2 separate regions of the Homo sapiens genome follow, and region 2 is linked to region 1. The links come from fine-mapping of genetic effects on gene expression. Tissue or cell type: unexposed skin. Region 1 holds a variant in brackets; the other region holds the start of a gene. All regions are shown on one strand. Distances are from middle to middle.

Evidence for each region. PIP is the estimated chance that this variant, and not a neighbour inherited with it, causes the effect.
Region 2: it holds the start of RCC2, and the variant in region 1 is fine-mapped to the expression of RCC2 in unexposed skin (GTEx, PIP 0.94).

Annotation. Positions count from the first base shown.
Region 1 is chr1:17,398,126-17,406,211 of GRCh38, reverse strand. PADI6 (peptidyl arginine deiminase 6) reads right to left here. Exons shown (of 16, transcript NM_207421.4): 15 at 7,365-7,526; 16 at 4,513-5,007. The coding sequence ends at 4,774. Among named protein-coding and RNA genes, the nearest start is that of PADI6, 30 kb to the right of the region's middle. RefSeq lists an enhancer at 4,441-5,377. The variant C/T (reference allele first, on the strand shown) is at 4,848.
Region 2 is chr1:17,434,977-17,443,075 of GRCh38, reverse strand. It overlaps RCC2 (regulator of chromosome condensation 2), which reads left to right and starts at 3,399. Exons shown (of 13, transcript NM_018715.4): 1 at 3,399-3,531; 2 at 4,554-4,846. The coding sequence starts at 4,562. LOC124903862 (a long non-coding RNA gene) reads left to right here and starts at 1,533. Exons shown (of 2, transcript XR_007065508.1): 1 at 1,533-1,618; 2 at 2,023-2,940. RefSeq lists silencers at 3,160-3,299, 4,619-4,718.

The DNA of each region.
Region 1 (8,086 bases):
TGCCTGGGATCCCTGGAACCTCGAGTGCAGGCCACCTTGTGTTGACTGGCTGAATAGTGTCCAGACCAGCCCCTCCTGGCAGGCATTGGCCCAGTTTGGGAGAGGAGGAAACGGTCTCCCATGGCCTGTTAGCTGCAGAAGGAGCATGTGCACTGTTGCAGGACAGTCCAAATGTAAAACACGGTGTTTCCCCATCTCCCCCCTTGGCAGCTTGGAGCTTCCCATCAGATGCTCCTGCCCTGGAAGAGCCCCCGTGGGCAGGGAAGCCACTGCTGGGGGCAGCGTCCCTGCTGACACACTGGCTGTTGTGTATTGGGCACATGCTGCAAATTGAGTGTCGTGTGTCTCGCCCCTGACTCCTGCAGTCCACTCCGACAGTCTTTTTGGAGACTGAGTTTCTTTCACCCAGGCTGGAGTGCAGTGGCATAATCGCAGCTCACTGCAACCTCTGCCTCCTGGGTTCAAGCGATTCTCCTGCCTCAGCCTCCTGAGTAGCTGGGATTACAGGTGTCCACCACATGCCTGGCTAATTTTTGTATTTTTAGTAGAGATGGGGTTTCACCATGTTGTCCAGGCTGGTCCCGAACTCCTGACCTCGTGATCCTCCCACCTTGGCCGCCTCCCAAAGTGCTGGGATTACAGGCATGAGCCACCGCGCTCGGTCTTGTATTTTTGAGATGGAGCTTTGCTCTGTCGCCCAGGCTGGAGTGCAGTGGTGTGATCTCTGCTTACTGCAACCTCTGCCTCCTGGGTTCAAGCAATTCTGCCTCGGCCTCCTGAGTAGCTGGGATTACAGGCAAGTGCCACCACGCCCTGCTAATTTTTGTATTTTTAGTAGAGACGGGGTTTCACCATGTTGGCCAGGCTGGTCTCAAACTGACCTCAAGTGATCTGCCCGCTTCAGCCTCCCAAAGTGCTAGGATTACAGGCGTGAGCCACCACGCCCGGCCACACAGGCAGTCTTGAAGGGAAGGCTGTTTGTTTTTTATTCCTGTGTTATAGAGGGAAGTGGGGTGCAGAGAGAAAATGGCTTTGGCTGAGGGACACAGTGGGGCGGGTAGGAAGACCTGTGCCTGGAACCACAAAGATCCTAGTAACAAAGATGGCCTCCCCTGCTCCCCCAGCCTGCCCCTGGCTGAGGACAGGGAGCCCATGTGACCTGTGGCCACCCTGGAGGGGCTGTCTTGAGAGCTTCGAGAACATCCAGGAGACCTTCACCTGCCCTTCCAGGGGCAGTGTAGGTGGCCAATACAGAGCAGCCGGGGCCTGCCAGGCCTGTGGCTGGGGGATGGGAGAAGCCTCCTGAAGTCGGGGGGGCAGAGAAGGCAGGCTCCCCACGGGCGGCTCTGGAGGTTTTTTTTTTTTAATGTCCCCCAGGCTGGAGTGCAGTGTCACAATCTTGGCTCCCCGCAACCTCCTCCTCCCAGGTTCAAGTAATTCTCCTGCCTCAGCCTCCTGAATAGCTAAGATTACAGGCACAGGCCACCACACCCGGCTAATTTCTTTGTATTTTTAGTAGAGATGAGGTTTCACCATGTTGACCAGACTGGTCTTGAACTCTTGAACTCAGGTGATTCCTCCCACTACCTCAGCCTCCCGAAGTGCTAGGATTACAGGCATGAGCCACCGTGCCCGGCCTTTGGCTCTGGGGTTTTCTCACCTGCAAAGCTGCTGCCTCCTGCTATTGTCCTGCCCCGTCAAGCCAGCAGCCTTTCTGGCCAATGTCCTCCACACTAAGCGGCTCCTTAAGCTCCCAGGGAAGAGTGAAAAGGGCTGGAAGGATGGCGAATGGGGAAGGGGACTTGCCGGTTCCTACCCAGCCCTGCTTTGCCCCGAACACCTGCCCCAGCCCCACATTGAAGGGCGGGGACCTGCGGAAGCGCCACGCGGGATGGTCAAGCTGGAGGGTCTCAGGATCCAGCTTAGCTGGTGTTCACACCAGACAATAGCAATGGAGCCCACTCTCCAGACTGGGAGGACTCAGTAGGCAGGGATGCAGGGAGGAGGGAAGGGGAGACAGGAACAGCCCCTTCAAGGCTTTGGAAGGGAAATGGGGGTCGCCCCCTGCTAAAAGCATTCTGGGCACTGAAGCAGCCTGGAGGGGAGAGGACTCGGTGCCTCTAGAGAACTAAAAGATGGCCTGTTGCAGGTTGGGAGGCACATGGGAGGGCTGGAATCTCCAAAACCCTCAGCTGCCCCCACACTGGGTCCCCAGCACTCTCCCACCCACCCCCCACCCCGCCAGCATTTCCTGTGATTTTTGTTCTTTTTTTTTTTGAGACGAAGTCTCACTCTGTTGCCCAGGCTGGAGTGCGGTGGCATGATCTTGGAGCCTCTGCCTCCTGGGTTCAAGTGATTCTCTCAACTCAGCCACTCAGCCTCCCAAGTAGCTGGGATTACAGGTGCATGCCACAATGCCCCGACTAATTTTTGCATTTTTAGTAGAGACGGGGTTTCCCCATGTTGGCCTGGCTGGCCTTGAAGCCCTGGCCTCAAATGATCCACCTGCCTCAGCCTCCCAAAGTGCTGGGATTGCAGGCATGAGCCACTGCGCCTGGCCCCGTGTCTGCTATGCAGGCAATGGAGGGTTTTGTTTACTTCTACAGAGATGTGGTCTCCCAGCCTTCAGGAATGAGAGGTGCCACGTGTCTTTCTAGGGCTTTATGTAAATAACTCCAGTCCTCAGAACAACCTCGAGACAGGCACAACTCTTACCCACTTGCGCTGGTGAGGAAACTGAGGCACAGAGCCCACTTACCTTGTTTTCTTGCCTTTGGCCAGTACAGGGAGCATTTCCTCTCCTTCCCTACAGCAGTAGTGCAAGCATGGCGCCAAATGACCACTGACCTTTGCAGGGGAACACAGTGGGGAGGGATGGGGACTGGGGCCTGTTGGAGCACATCTTTGTCTAGAGGGTGTGGCCAGTGAGTCTTCAGCCTCGGGCCCAGTGTGGTCAGGTCTAAAGACTTGGCAGCAGGAGCTGGAAATCCAGACTTTGAGTAAATTGTCAGTGCCTAACTTAGAGACGTTTATAACACTGTGCAAGCCAAGTACACCCAGCTCTCTGCTGCAGGTGTCTGCTAACAGCCAGGGCTGGGGGGGTGCTTCTCCAGGTGCTATCAGGATGGTGCTGCCTGGGAGGTAACAGGAGAGAAGGGTGTCAAGCTGCCAAGATTTCCTGCAGGACCCTTAGGCAGGTGGGGCGGGAGGGGCCCAGGGCTGACCTGAAAAGCTCTGGGTGAGGGTCTAGTTAGGGTCAGAGGAGGGACCAATTCATCCACCCTAAGGCAGCCCTTGGTAGAGGTGGGCAAGTTCCCTGGGAAAAGCCCATGGGGGTGGAAGAGTGAACCTTTTGTCCCCCTTCTGGCCCTAGGGCTTTCCTCTCCCCTTTTTCCCTAGAGATGGAGCCCCAAGCCCTTGGGGTCCAGAGTCCTCTATTTCTTTTGGCTTTTCTAGACTATCTGAAAATGCAGATGAGCTCATCCATCCCTCCCCATATTTGAAGGCCTGGTCTGTGTCAGTCCCAGGCTGGTATAGGGGTCAGAGCCATGAATACAACAAGAGGTCTCTAGTGTAGTCCATAAACTCTGCACCACCATGGGCAGGTTAACGAGATGTCGTAAGATGTCCTGGGGTAGCTGGCACACCAGGGCACAGCTCTTGGATAAAAACCCACATCTGATCCAGAGACCAGCCCTGCTGCCCCAACCCTGGCTTCTGCCTCGCTTCCTTAGGATGACCCTCCTCCACTGCCCCAGCAGCTGGCAGAGGCTGGCCAGGTCCTGCCTGCTGCCCACAGAGCCCCAGGTGTTAGGAAGGGGGCTAGTTTGAGGCCCAGCTCTGCCTTCAACTCCCTGTGGGACATGGACACAGGGCTCCCTTCTCAGGTTCTACCCTGAGGATTAGAGTGTCCTAGAGTCATCATCATCCAGGAGGAGCAGGGTGGGAGCCACAGCGCCAGTTAAAGCTTAACAGCATCCCTGTACCATTAACACAGGGGTGGTCAGATGGGAATATGTGGCTTTGGGCCCTGGAGGGGACATTTCAGGCTGAGGGTCAGCCCAGGTCCACCCCTGCTGTGCCTTCTCAAAGAGGCCACACCTACAGACCCAAGGAGACCAGAGCCTCCACTTGCTGAGGCCAGCTGCCTGCCGTGCATGGCACCACCCCCACCGTGGGCCTGCCCCCTCCAGGTCCTACCAGTCCCAAGGGGGAGGCCCTCGACCTTCCTCTAGCCTGGGCCCTGGACTCTAGACCCAGCTTGTCCCAGTTGCTTAAACCAGAGCAGCATTTGGATAATCTTAAATCCATTTGGATAATCTAAGTCCATTTGGATAAGTCCAACCACTTCCTGCCACGACATAATTTAGAGATGAGGGGAAGGACAGCAACTGATGTAGCCAAGTCTCTCCCCCCACACAAGCAGGCCAGCATGGCCATAGGTATCTCAGCTCAGCCTTGTCCTCAGTTGTCACTTATCCCCTCCCCAAACAAGGAGGTCACTGCCAAGATGCATTCACACCCACCAGCCCTTTATTGGCTATTTAGTAAACGTCACTTGGCTGAACACTTTTGCATCTTTTCCCCATAGGGGTTCAAGCTGGCGGCATTTGCCATCCTACTGGGTCCGAGGGTCGGTCGGGGCAGACAGGGAAGAAAGGGTTCTGTTGCCTGGACTCTCCAGCCTCCTCTACTGGGCAAAGAATCATGCTGTTGCATGGTGACAGTGGGCCATCCACGCTGGGGCAGAGCTGGCAGCTCCAGGGCCTGGGTCTAAGGTACCATCTTCCACCATTTGAAGGCAAAGGGCACCCGGCGGATGTTGGCACAGGCACAGATGTCTCCGA[C/T]CTCTGTCAGGTAACAGTCAAAGTCATTGATGAAGGTGCACTTGAAGCCCAGGGGCTCCAGCAAGCAGCAAATCTTTTCTTCCAGGCAGCAGGTCCCCTTGATTTGGGGCCCAAAAGGCTTGGGGATCCCCAGGTTCTTGCCCATCACAATCATCCGCAACTGTTAGAAAGACAGGGTGGGTGAGGCCTGGACAGGGATCAGAGGCCTGAAAGCCAGCCGCCCACCTGCCTCTCTGCGGTCAGACCAGGCGTAGCAGGCAGGCAGCCGCCTCCTCCAGGTCAGTGAAACCCAGCTCACTTTTGCTTAGCCCTACAATGGCTGTTTCTCAACAGCCAGATAAAATCCTGCCTGGCCAAGGTCTGGGATTGTCAACTTCTCTAGTTTCTACGTTTCGATTATTCTGGCCTCTTGTCACCTGGATACAACACATGGCTGCTGCCTCCACTGAAACACTCTCCCCACCCCCGCTTTGTCAGTTGACTGCTGCGCATCTTTTGTATCTCAACTCCTCCTCAAAGCAGCTTCTTACCGTTACTCACCCCTGCCGGACCACACTGAGCTGATCAAGTTAGAAGACACCCATGTACAATTGGAGCATGCAGGGCCTGTGTCCCTAGGACCCAGGGAAGAGGTCAGCAGGTGTTTAGAGAATTGGGGCACTCAAATGCCTCAGTTCATTTTACACACCTATATAAGGGGTCAGTTGTTACATGAGAAAGTTCAGATGTGAGCCACAGTCGGCATAGGCTTGGTGAAGCCAGGACCTCTTGTACTCACAGCCCCACTCTTGACTATAACTTCTGGTTTAGAATAAGTAGGAACAGAATTTAAAAAACAAAAACAAACAAACAAAAAAACAAAACAGTTTTGCTCTTGTTGCCCAGGCTGGAGTGCAACAGGGTGATCTCCGCTCACTGCAACCTCCACCTCCCAGGTTCAAGCGATTCTCCTGCCTCAGCCTCCTGAGTAGCTGGGATGACAGGCATGCACCACTACACCTGGCTAATTTTGTATTTTTGGTAAAGACAGTTTCTCCATGTAAGGCTGGTCTCGCAGTCCTGACCTCAAGTGATCTGCCTGCCTGGGCCTCCCAAAGTGCTGGGATTACAGGTGTAAGACACCACGCCCAGCCCCAGAATGTTTTTTTTTTTTTTTGGTTTGGTTTATCAGACAAGGTCTTGGTTTGTTACCCAGGCTAGAGTGCAGTGGCTCATTGTAGCCTCCACCTCCGGGGCTCAAGAAATTGTCCTGCCTCAGCCTCCTGAGTGGCTGAGACTACAGGCATGTGGCACCACACCCAGCATTTTTTGTTTTGTTTTGTTTGTTTTTTTGGGAGACAGTCTTGCTGTTGCCCAGGCTGGAGTCCAGTGGTGCAATCTTGGCTCACTGCAACCTCTGCCTCCTGGGTTCAAGGGATCCTCCTGCTTCAGCCTCTGATTAGCTGGGATTATAGGCATGCACCACCACACCCAGCTAGTTTTTTGTATTCTTACTAGAGAGTTTCAACCATGTTTGCAGGGCTGATCTCGAACTTCAGACTTCAAGTGATCCACCCACCTCAGCCTCCCAAAGTGCTGAGATTACGGGCATGAGCCACTGCACCCTGGCCCCAGCATTTTTTTTTTCTTTTTTTTAAAGTTGCAGGGTCTCACTATGTTGCCCTAGCTGCTCTCCAACTCCTGAGTTCAAGTGATCTTCCCACCTCAGCCTCCCAACGTACTAGAACTACAGGTGAGCCACCACGACCAGCCAAGCAGAATAAATATTAGAGACGGAGTTTCAGTCTTGTTGCCCAGGCTGGAGTGCAATGGAGTGATCTAGGCTCAATGCAACCTCTGTCTCCGGGGTTCAAGCAATTCTCCTGTCTCTGCCTCCTGAGTAGCTGGGATTACAGGCATGTGCTACCACACCCAACTAATTTTGTATTTTTAGAGACAGGGTTTCTTCATGTTGGTCAGGCTGGTCTCAAACTCCTGACCTCAGGTGATCCACCTGCCTCGGCCTCCCAAAGTGTTGGGATTACAGGCATGAGCCACTGCGCCTGGCCTAGAATGTTATTTTAAGGGCTGATGTACCTCTATGTATCAGACACTGCTGCCCTGGACCCTGGAGATAGCGGACAGGAAGACCCACCCTGAGGTAGGTTGCTCAAGGCCTCGCTGCTGGCAGATGCGCGGCAACCTCGACTCTGGGTTGCATAGCACCCCATCCGAAGTGGGCCTCACAGGTTCACCCTTTTAGACTGGGGGCGCAGCTCACTGAGGCTCCTAAAGCACCTGGCCCAGGGCCTGGCCCATAGTAACTGCCTGGGGAACCTCCAAGCCTTCAGGCCCTGTACACTTGCTCTCTGGGTGGGGCGTCCCTAACCGAGATGGGGGAGAAGGGGTCTCCCTCCCATTTCCTCATAGGTACCGTTATCTGCTGTCCACCATATCTGCAGTCCAGCACAGTGAGGTGGCAGCCAGTGTTGCCTGGACAGGCCCTCCCCCACCCAGGGATGCGCAGTCGCCCCTCACCAGGTCAGGGAAGTATGGCCTCGCAAAGGACCTCTTGGGCTGCTGGTCAGAGGGGATGTTAGTCAGCTTCTCCAAGCAGAACAGCTGGGGAATCTCGATGATGTCCTGTTCCACCAGGCCCAGCTCCGTCTTCAGGATGTCACGGTTCAGGTGAATGCACTTCTGTGGGTGGGTGGGTGGGTGGGGGGGGGGGCGGGGGAGCAAGGAGAGCTCATCAGGAATTAAAACCAGTTTCCTTCCATACTGAAGGTAGGTGATGGCCTGACACCACTACCATCCCCATCACTTGCTGTGTGCCAGGAGCCTCACACTTCATACCAGCCTTACGAAATAGGCAGTTCCCTTTTCACATGGGGAAGTAGGGGCTCAGGAATGGCCTAGTCTTTAGTCCAGGATCCCATGGCTAGACAGCGTCTGGCACTTCTCAACCCAGACCAGCTGAGCCCAATACCCAGGCATCTCCCTAGGTCTTGAAATAGGCTTCAGACATAACCCAACACACCTGTCTCCCTAGGTCTTGAAATAGGCTTCAGACACATACCCAACACACCTAAGCTGTCGCCAGGGGCTGGGAGATGCTGTCTCAGCCCCATGCCTGGCTGGCACCCACCCTGCTATGCCAGGGGGGCTGTTCTTGCAAAACAGGGTACCCATGCACTGTGCGGGGCATAGAACATTCCTTGGGAACATTCCTGGGAATGTTAAGGACCCAGTGAGAGAAG
Region 2 (8,099 bases), 37 kb before region 1:
AGGTGCACGTCTACAGTCTCAGCTACTAGGGTGGCTGAGGCAGGAGAACTGTTTGACCCCAGGAGGTCGAGGCTGTAGTGAGCCAAGATGGCGCCACTACAGTCCAGCCTAGGTGACAGAGTGAGACCCAGTTTCCAAAAAAAAAAAAAGAGAAAGAATCGTTTCCATTGGTTAGCGCATCACTCCCAGGATCACTGGTTTCATTTTTATAGACACTGGATCAGAAAATTAATCTTTCAAGTACAGGTGTAGCTTTCTGTAGCCAAGTTGAATAGAATTACACTTCTGAGGCTGGGCACAGTGGCTCACGCCTGTAATCCTAGCACTTTGGGAGGCGAAGGCGGGCAAATCACGAGGTCAGAAGTTCAAGACCAGCCTGGCCAACATGGTGAAACCCCGTCTCTACTAAAAATACAAAATTAGCTAGGCGTGGTGGTATGCGCCTGTAATCCCAGCTACTTGGGAGGCTGAGGCAGGAGACTGCTTGAACCTGGGAGGTGGAGGTTGCCACCACTGCACTCCAGCCCGGGTGACAGTGCGAGACCCCACCTCAAAAGAAAAAAAAAAATGAATTATACTTCTGAGGCTGTGCACAGTGGCTCACCCCTATAATCCCGCAACTTTGGGAGGCTGAGGTGGGAGGACCACTCGAGACCAGCCTGGGCAACAGAGAGAGACCTTGTCTCTACAAAACATTAAAAAAGAAAAAAAATTTAGCCAAGTGTAGCTGTCCATGCCTGTGGTCTCAGCTACTTGGGAGGCTGAAGCGAGAGGATCGCTTGAGCAAGGAAGGTAGAGGCTGCAGTAAGCTGGGATCATACCATCACCCTTCAGCCTGGGTGCTGGAGGAGCAAGATTCTATCTAAAAAAATAAAAAAAAAAAAAAAAAAAAGAAAGAAAAAATCACACCTCACCCCTGGAAAAGAACTTAAGCGTAGCTGAATCTAACTTGCAATATGATTTTGCTGAAGATGAGGTTAAAGAGTGACGGCAGGCTGGCACTTGCAGCCACATTTCCAAAATTCTGGGTGTAAAATGCTCAGCACAGTGCCAGACACCTGTGCCTCAAAGTGTCAGAGAAATCTCAGCCACCTTCTTTCCCTTCCCCTCTCCCGGTTTTGCACCAAACCATCCTGTCCCTGGAGAATTTGCTCAATTAGAAGCGAGGTGAAATTCCAAGCACAGTTTGAAGGAGGAAGTGTCATTTTCAGCTTGCCTGTAGGTGCACCTCACTATGTAACATTTGTTACATAAGTGGCAGCATGACACGCCTAACTGATGAATGTCTGTTGCACACCCAATTCCAGCCGGGAGAGTCACGCAGGCTTTCCCTGGGAGAATAGTGGTGTGGAATTGAGGCATGGAGTTGCAAAAATTACTTTTGTCTTCTGACAAGTAGGGCCAGTTCCAGGGTGTTATACCCAAAGTGCTTTTCTACTGCAGCATAACCTCAAGAAAAACCAGTTTCAGGAGCACCACACCTAGGATCAGATGATGCAATATGATATTAGCGTCTCATTGCATCAGTGTGTCTGAGGCATGAGTCTTTTAAGCTGGCAAAAAGCATTATAAAGGGGCAGGAGAAAAAAGGAAAAGACTTGCAGACTGAAATCTAAAGGTACTGTCAGTGGTGTTCCTAATTGGCCACACAGGGTGTTTAGAGGATAAACACCCAGCCACCCGCCTCGGCTGACAAGCATCAGCATGCCATTTCCTGAAGGGGACTTGATGGCATATTTAGGCGAAATTCTTTTCTGGTTGGTTCTACTTATGCTTTATATCAAAGCGTCAAAGTTTAACCTCTAAAAAATCTTTTTAAATGCAGGTCTATTAAGAATAGGCTTTCAAAGGGTGCTTCTATTCCATCTTGACTTTTCTGAAAATCTCTGAAACGTACCAGTTGATTTCTCATTTCCAAAGTTCTTTTACATAAGCACTCTCAGCTCTCTTGACACACAGACTTTTGACTTTGATCAAATACCTTAGATTTGGGCCTCTTGGTTTCTCTGTCTTCCTTTACAGGACACTTGATGCTTCCCAGTCCTGTTTCTTGCACTAACAATGAATGAATGAATCACAAAAATCCTAGAACTTTATGCGTTTTCAAGAAGTTGCCTGAAGAAGGAACTTCCTTGTGCGGTACGCCTCAGGAAAAAAGAAGCAGGAGAAAAGCTTTGAGAGGAGAGCAAGTGACGGTGAGATCGTAATGGAAGTGGGGTGGAGAGGTGGAGGGTGGAGACCGGTAGGAAGCAAGCAAGGCTTTTTTCACCCGTCCCAGGACACGCGAACGAGATCAAGCCTCACTGCGGTTCACTAGGGTCTATGCAGGCCCTCGCACCCCTGCCTACCTCCTCAGAACCCAGCCTCTTGGCTCTTCTCACCCCAGCCCCACCAGACAGCTTCCCTCCCAGGAGGTGTCTCTCAAGATCTCGAAATGTGGAGCGTCCCGTTCACTCCACCTGGCCTGGAATACTTTTCCTGCCCCCTTTCATCGGGTCTTATTCATCCTTTAAGTTGTTCAGCATAACTTTCCACCTGAATGCCTTCCCTGGCCCTGGACTAGGATAAATCCCCTCGCCATAATGTTCCTACACAGGCATCACTTTGTAAAGCTTACCACTGTTGTAATTACTTGTTTACTGATCTGTCTTTCCGTTAGGCTGTGCGTTCCACTGGGGTGGAAACCTTGTTCACTGGCTCTGCAGCCCCGGGCACTGTGGGTCTTGCATGTACCGGGGGCTCAGTAAATATTTGGCAAAAAATGAAAAAGTTCCCCTCAAAGCCAGCTTCCAGTGCCTCCACGGCCCTCAAATTAATTATGAATTAATTCACTAATACAGCAAACCTTTATGTGATTCTTCCGTGTCACAGCACCTTGTTACATACTGAGGACACATCCACAGGCAAATAAAACTCAGCTTCTCTCTGCACAGGAAAAAATTATTCAAATTGTATTCATCTTTCATTCCAATCACTCAATTAGGGCACGTCCCTTGTTGGCTGCTGCGTGAGCGAAGTAACTATTTTCCAGCGAGTGTCCTCATGTGACCTGTCTAGACGTGCCCAGGAAAAACAATCCAACATCCTCCTAAGCCGCAAAGAAGTCCCTGACGCGCAGGCCGCACTGCGTGGAAGGCCCAAAGCGCGCTCGCGGGCCCGCGAAAGGCGCAGGAGCAGCGGAGCCGAGGCGGGCGGCGAGGCGCGCGGCGCGCGGCGCAGGCTCGGGTGGGCAGGGCAGGGCCAGGCCGGGCGGGGCGGGGGCGCCGGCAACGGGTCCGCCGGCCGGCAGGGGGCGCGCGCGCCCCGCGCCCCGCGCCTCCCGCCCCGCCGCGCGCTCGCTTGCCGCGCGGCCGCACATGTGTTTCTGTTTTGTGTTGTAGCATTTGTTCTGGAAGCTCGTATTTACATTTTAAGTGTATCTGGTGAGTGGGCTGGAGCCCTCGTCTGGGCCGGAAAAAAAAAAGCCCTCCGATCCGTCTTTTAGTTGCTTCTCTTCCTTTTTTCTCTCCGGTTTCTCATCACTCCAACCAGGTAGGGTCTGAAAATCGACAGTGATCAGTTTGTGGGGTCTGGGAAAGTTTTTTTTTTTTTCCTTTTTTTAAAGAGAAAAGGTTAAAAAAAAACCTGGGGGAGGGGGGCTGGGTGATTGAAGGAATAAAAAGAGGAAGGAAGGCGGATCCACGTGGTTTAATCGGAGACAGACAGAGATCCCATTGTTCAAAATCAATTAAAAAAAAAAAAAAAAGCAGACAGGGGAGAGCGCAGGGACGCCGGGGAGCTGGCGGCGGCCCTGGACACTTTGCAGTCGAATCGGAGACCGGCCGGGCCGCACGGCCGGCAAGGGGGCTGGGAGAGAGTTGGGCACCATTAAAGTTTTTATTTTTCGTGTCTGTGCGAGCAGGTGTTTGGGGCTGGGGTCCAGCTTTCTTCGGGCTCTTCCCCCGTCGCCGGGGGCAGTCCGCCGTAGGGATTCGGCTAACTAGAGCCCGAGGTCGGCACCCCTGAGCTGGGGCCGAACGGGGGTCCAGGGCTGATGCGGGGTGGGGGAGAGCGTTGCATTAAATGCCATGAGTGGGTTTGGGGGGAGACTGCGGAGACAAAAGCAGCAGGTGGGGTAGCCGGGGAGCAGGGGCTCCCTTACCACCCAGGTGCCAAGGGGGAATCCTGGAAGTGTCCCGAAGCCTTCTTTAATGAAAATCTAGGGGACTGGAGGCTGGTTTTACTTTCCCTTTACTTTTGGGGGGCGAGGTTGCAACTGTGATGCTTTGTGGGCAAACCTAACTTACGGATAGGCCGGGGGTCTCAATTCTCCCTCCAGGGGATTGCCTCTGGGGCTCCCGGCTGCCCTGCGGGATTCCCCGAAGGAGCCGCGCCGGGGCCAGGGAGGGGCGCGATTTCCTCTCCCAACTCGCCCCCTCTCCGCCCACCCTGCGGCCGCCACTTTGGGGAGGGCAGAGGAGGAAGTGGAGGCCGGGTGGCTCGTCTCCGCTCCCCTCCCCCCGCGCAGTTTATAACCCGTCCATTGTGCGCCGCTGCCCCGTGTCTCCCTCCAGCCGCGACCATGCCCAGGAAGAAGGCGGCGGCGGCGGCCTGGGAGGAGCCGAGCTCGGGCAACGGCACTGCCCGCGCCGGGCCCAGGAAACGCGGCGGCCCGGCGGGCAGGAAGCGCGAGCGGCCCGAGCGCTGCAGTAGCAGCAGCGGCGGCGGCAGCAGCGGCGACGAGGACGGCCTGGAGCTCGACGGGGCCCCCGGCGGGGGCAAGCGCGCGGCGCGGCCGGCGACAGCAGGCAAGGCGGGCGGCGCGGCCGTGGTCATCACCGAACCCGAGCACACCAAGGAGCGCGTCGTGAGTGAGGGTCAGGGTAGACGGGTGGGCGCAGGGCCGGGGCCGGCGGGCTCAGCGACGCGGCACGGCGCGCGTTCCAGCCGGGGGCCGCCTCGCGTCACGCTCCCTCCCGGCGGCCGGGCCGGCGCAGGCCGCGGGCTGAATCATTGCCTCCGCCTCCGCGCAACAAAAGGGCTCGGTACGGGGCGCGCGGCCCGCGGCCTACCCGACCCCGGGCACCGCGCGGGCGGTTGGCGGTTGGGGCGCGCGCCCGGGCCCGCGGCGGGGGAGGGGCGGCCGAAGCCCGCACGAGGGGGTCATGGCCCCGCCCCCACAGCTCCCTCTGCGCCCCTCCCCCCCCGCCCCGGGAAAGGGGACCTCGGTAAGTTCGCCCGGCCTGGAAGAGGGGGCGGCCAGCGGGCCCCACACGTCCGTGGCCGCCGCTGCGCCCGGGCGCCGCGGGGAGGGGGCGGCCGGCGCTCTGCGGGGAGCGGCCGTTTGCGCCGGGGCTTTGAGGTTCCCGCCGCCTCGGCTCCGGCGCCCGGGGGGGGCGGGGCCTGACGGCCGCCGCGCATGCTCCGCAGAGCCCTCCCCCGAGGTCGGGGAAGCCCCCCGGCTGAGCGGTGCTCGGGCTTTGTTTGCCGCCGGTGGTCCGAAGCTGCAGGATGCTCGCGAGGGCTCTGTTGTAGCCCCCCCAAGTGAAGAAGCATCTCCTAGGGTCCTGGGCGGGCTTCTGTTTTCTCAAATCTTAATTAAGGTCGTGGCTGACTCAAGTTAACGTTCCCGAAAAAGCCTGCAGAGCCGGAGATCTGAACCCGGCATCTGCCGCCACAGCATCTCCCCACCCCCACAGAACTTTCTTTAAGTTTGGTGTGGTGTGGGATATGTTTTTCAGAAGAGGGTCTAAGTTTTCACCAGATTCTCAGATAACCCCCAGAGAGCAAGAACTTCCACCTGGGGTGTAGAGCCTGACACCCGGAGAGGTTTTTTTCCTTCCATAAGTGCCCATCTCCTAAGGGTGTTTAAGGGTTAACAGCAGAGTGCTTTCCTCCAGAGAAGCGCAGGCAGTGTCTAATAACACATTTTCTACGTCCGTTTTATAGATAGGGAAACTGGGGCACAGAATTCGAGGGCCTTGTCCAAAGTCATGGATGGAACTGGATCTCCAAATGCTGTAACTCCTGATGTCCCTGCAAATTGCACATGGGAATATGCTTTGTAAAAGTGCCTTCTGGGTGAAAGGGTTAACATGTTAGGCAGTGGAGGAGAGCCCGTCAAAAGCTGTCAAAAGGTCTTGCCCGGGGTCTTGGATCAGGCTAGACTAGACAATGGCCAAAGTATTGAGAAACTGGAACACAGGAACTGTTTTCCTTTGACGTCTAGTCTGCTGTGCCAGACTCCAGACATTTGCCCTCCGAACACAGTATGTTAGGATGAAACTAAAAAGAAAGGCCAGGTGAGCTTCCGCGTCTCCTGTATCCTATTTTGAGTGAGTTTCCAAAAGCAAGATTGTGTTTAGACATCCAAGACTGCAGTTATCAGCTGTACAGCTCCAGACTGTTGGAACGCTGAATTTTGCCATCAGAGCAAAAGATCCTTACCCCATGCTGAGATTGACCCAAGGAGGTAGAGACAGGGAGTGTGTGAGGGACACTGGCTCTCCCTGGCCCACCTCTGTCTCCAGCTGTGCTGCTTGAAGCTGCTTTGTCAATGGAAATGGCACATTTGTTAGTCTTTTTTTTTTGAGGCAGAGTCTCCCTCTATGGCCAGGCTGGAGTGCAGTGGCACGATCTCAGCTCACTGCAACCTCCGCCTCTCAGGTTCAAGTGATTTTTGTGTGCTGATCAGCCTCTCGAGCAGCTGGGATTACAAGTGTGTTCCACCACACCCGAATAATTTTTGTACTTTTTGTAGAGGCTGGGTTTTACCATGTTGGCCAGGCTGGTCTCAAACTGCTGGCCTCAAGTGATCTGCCTGCCTCAGCCTCCTTCCAAAGTGCTGGGATGACAGGCGCGAGCCCTGTGTTGGGTTGCATGTTTGTAAGTCTTAATGTGAGTAAACAGCAGTCCATTGCAGCTTTTAAGTTCCTGTTTATACACATAAATACGTTATTATTTTACATATGTGTATAAGCAGGACTCTAAAAGCTACATCTTCCTTTCTCTATCCACTTAAAACCAACAGGGGCCCATGATGCCCATCCTTTGGGCTGTCGGTGCTGTTCTAGAATCAGAGCACCTGGGAGGCTGAGGGTTCAGCATATGATGCCCCTTTATGCCTCATGGAAAGTGCACACCCTACATTTAAGTTTTGCTTTTTTTTTTTTTTTTTTGAGCTGGAGTTTAGCTGTTGTTGCCCAGGTTGGAGTGCAATGTTGCGATCTCAGCTCACTGCAATCTCCGCCTCCCGGGTTCAAGCAATTCTTCTGCCTCAGCCTCCCGAGTAGCTGGGATTATAGACGCCCACCACCACACCTGGCTAATTTTTTGTATTTTTAGTAGAGACGGGGTTTCACCACGTTGGCCAGGCTGGTCTCGAACTCCTGATCTCAGGTGGTCCACCCACCTTGGCCTCCCAAAGTGCCCCACGTTTAAGTTTTGTTAGCATCTACTGAGTTTGGTCCATGTTCGGGGCTGGGTCCATGCAGCCCCATTGCCTTTCCATAGGCCTAGGGCAGCCCTCTGCCCCTTGTCCTGGGTTGGCCTCCTGCCCAGTCTCCCTGGCCCCAGGTTTCTGGTCTCTGTTTCTCTGTTGAGCAGTCCTAGGGACCCTGTGTGCTGCCACAGGCAGACAGCAGTCCTTGTTGCAGAAAGAACCTTTTTTACTGAGCATTTTGCATGCCTTGCCCCGCTCAGGGTTGCTAGGAGGAGGTCTGTGTGAAAGCAGCCGCCCAGGAAATGTCCAAAACCATATTGCCTTCAGTGACCCCAAAGCTGCAGGTGTCGGGCTTGTAGAAGATGAGCCAAATACTTACATTGTTGAGGGGCAGAATTGCCTTGAGTAAAAGATGTGCATTTTATAGAACATTCTTATGGCAGATGAGCGTTGTCATTGCCTAGGTGTTAAGAAAAAATTCAAATTCTTTTTTCCTCCGCTCTCACGGCCACACTCAACAACCAACACCAGACTTCTTCCGCACCCCCCACCCCAGATGGAGTCTTGCTCTGTCTCCCAGGCTGGAGTGCAGTGGTGTGATCTCAGCTCACTGCAGCCTCCACCTCCTGGGTTCAAGCAACTCTCCTGCCTCAGCCTCCTGAGTAGCTGAGATGACAGG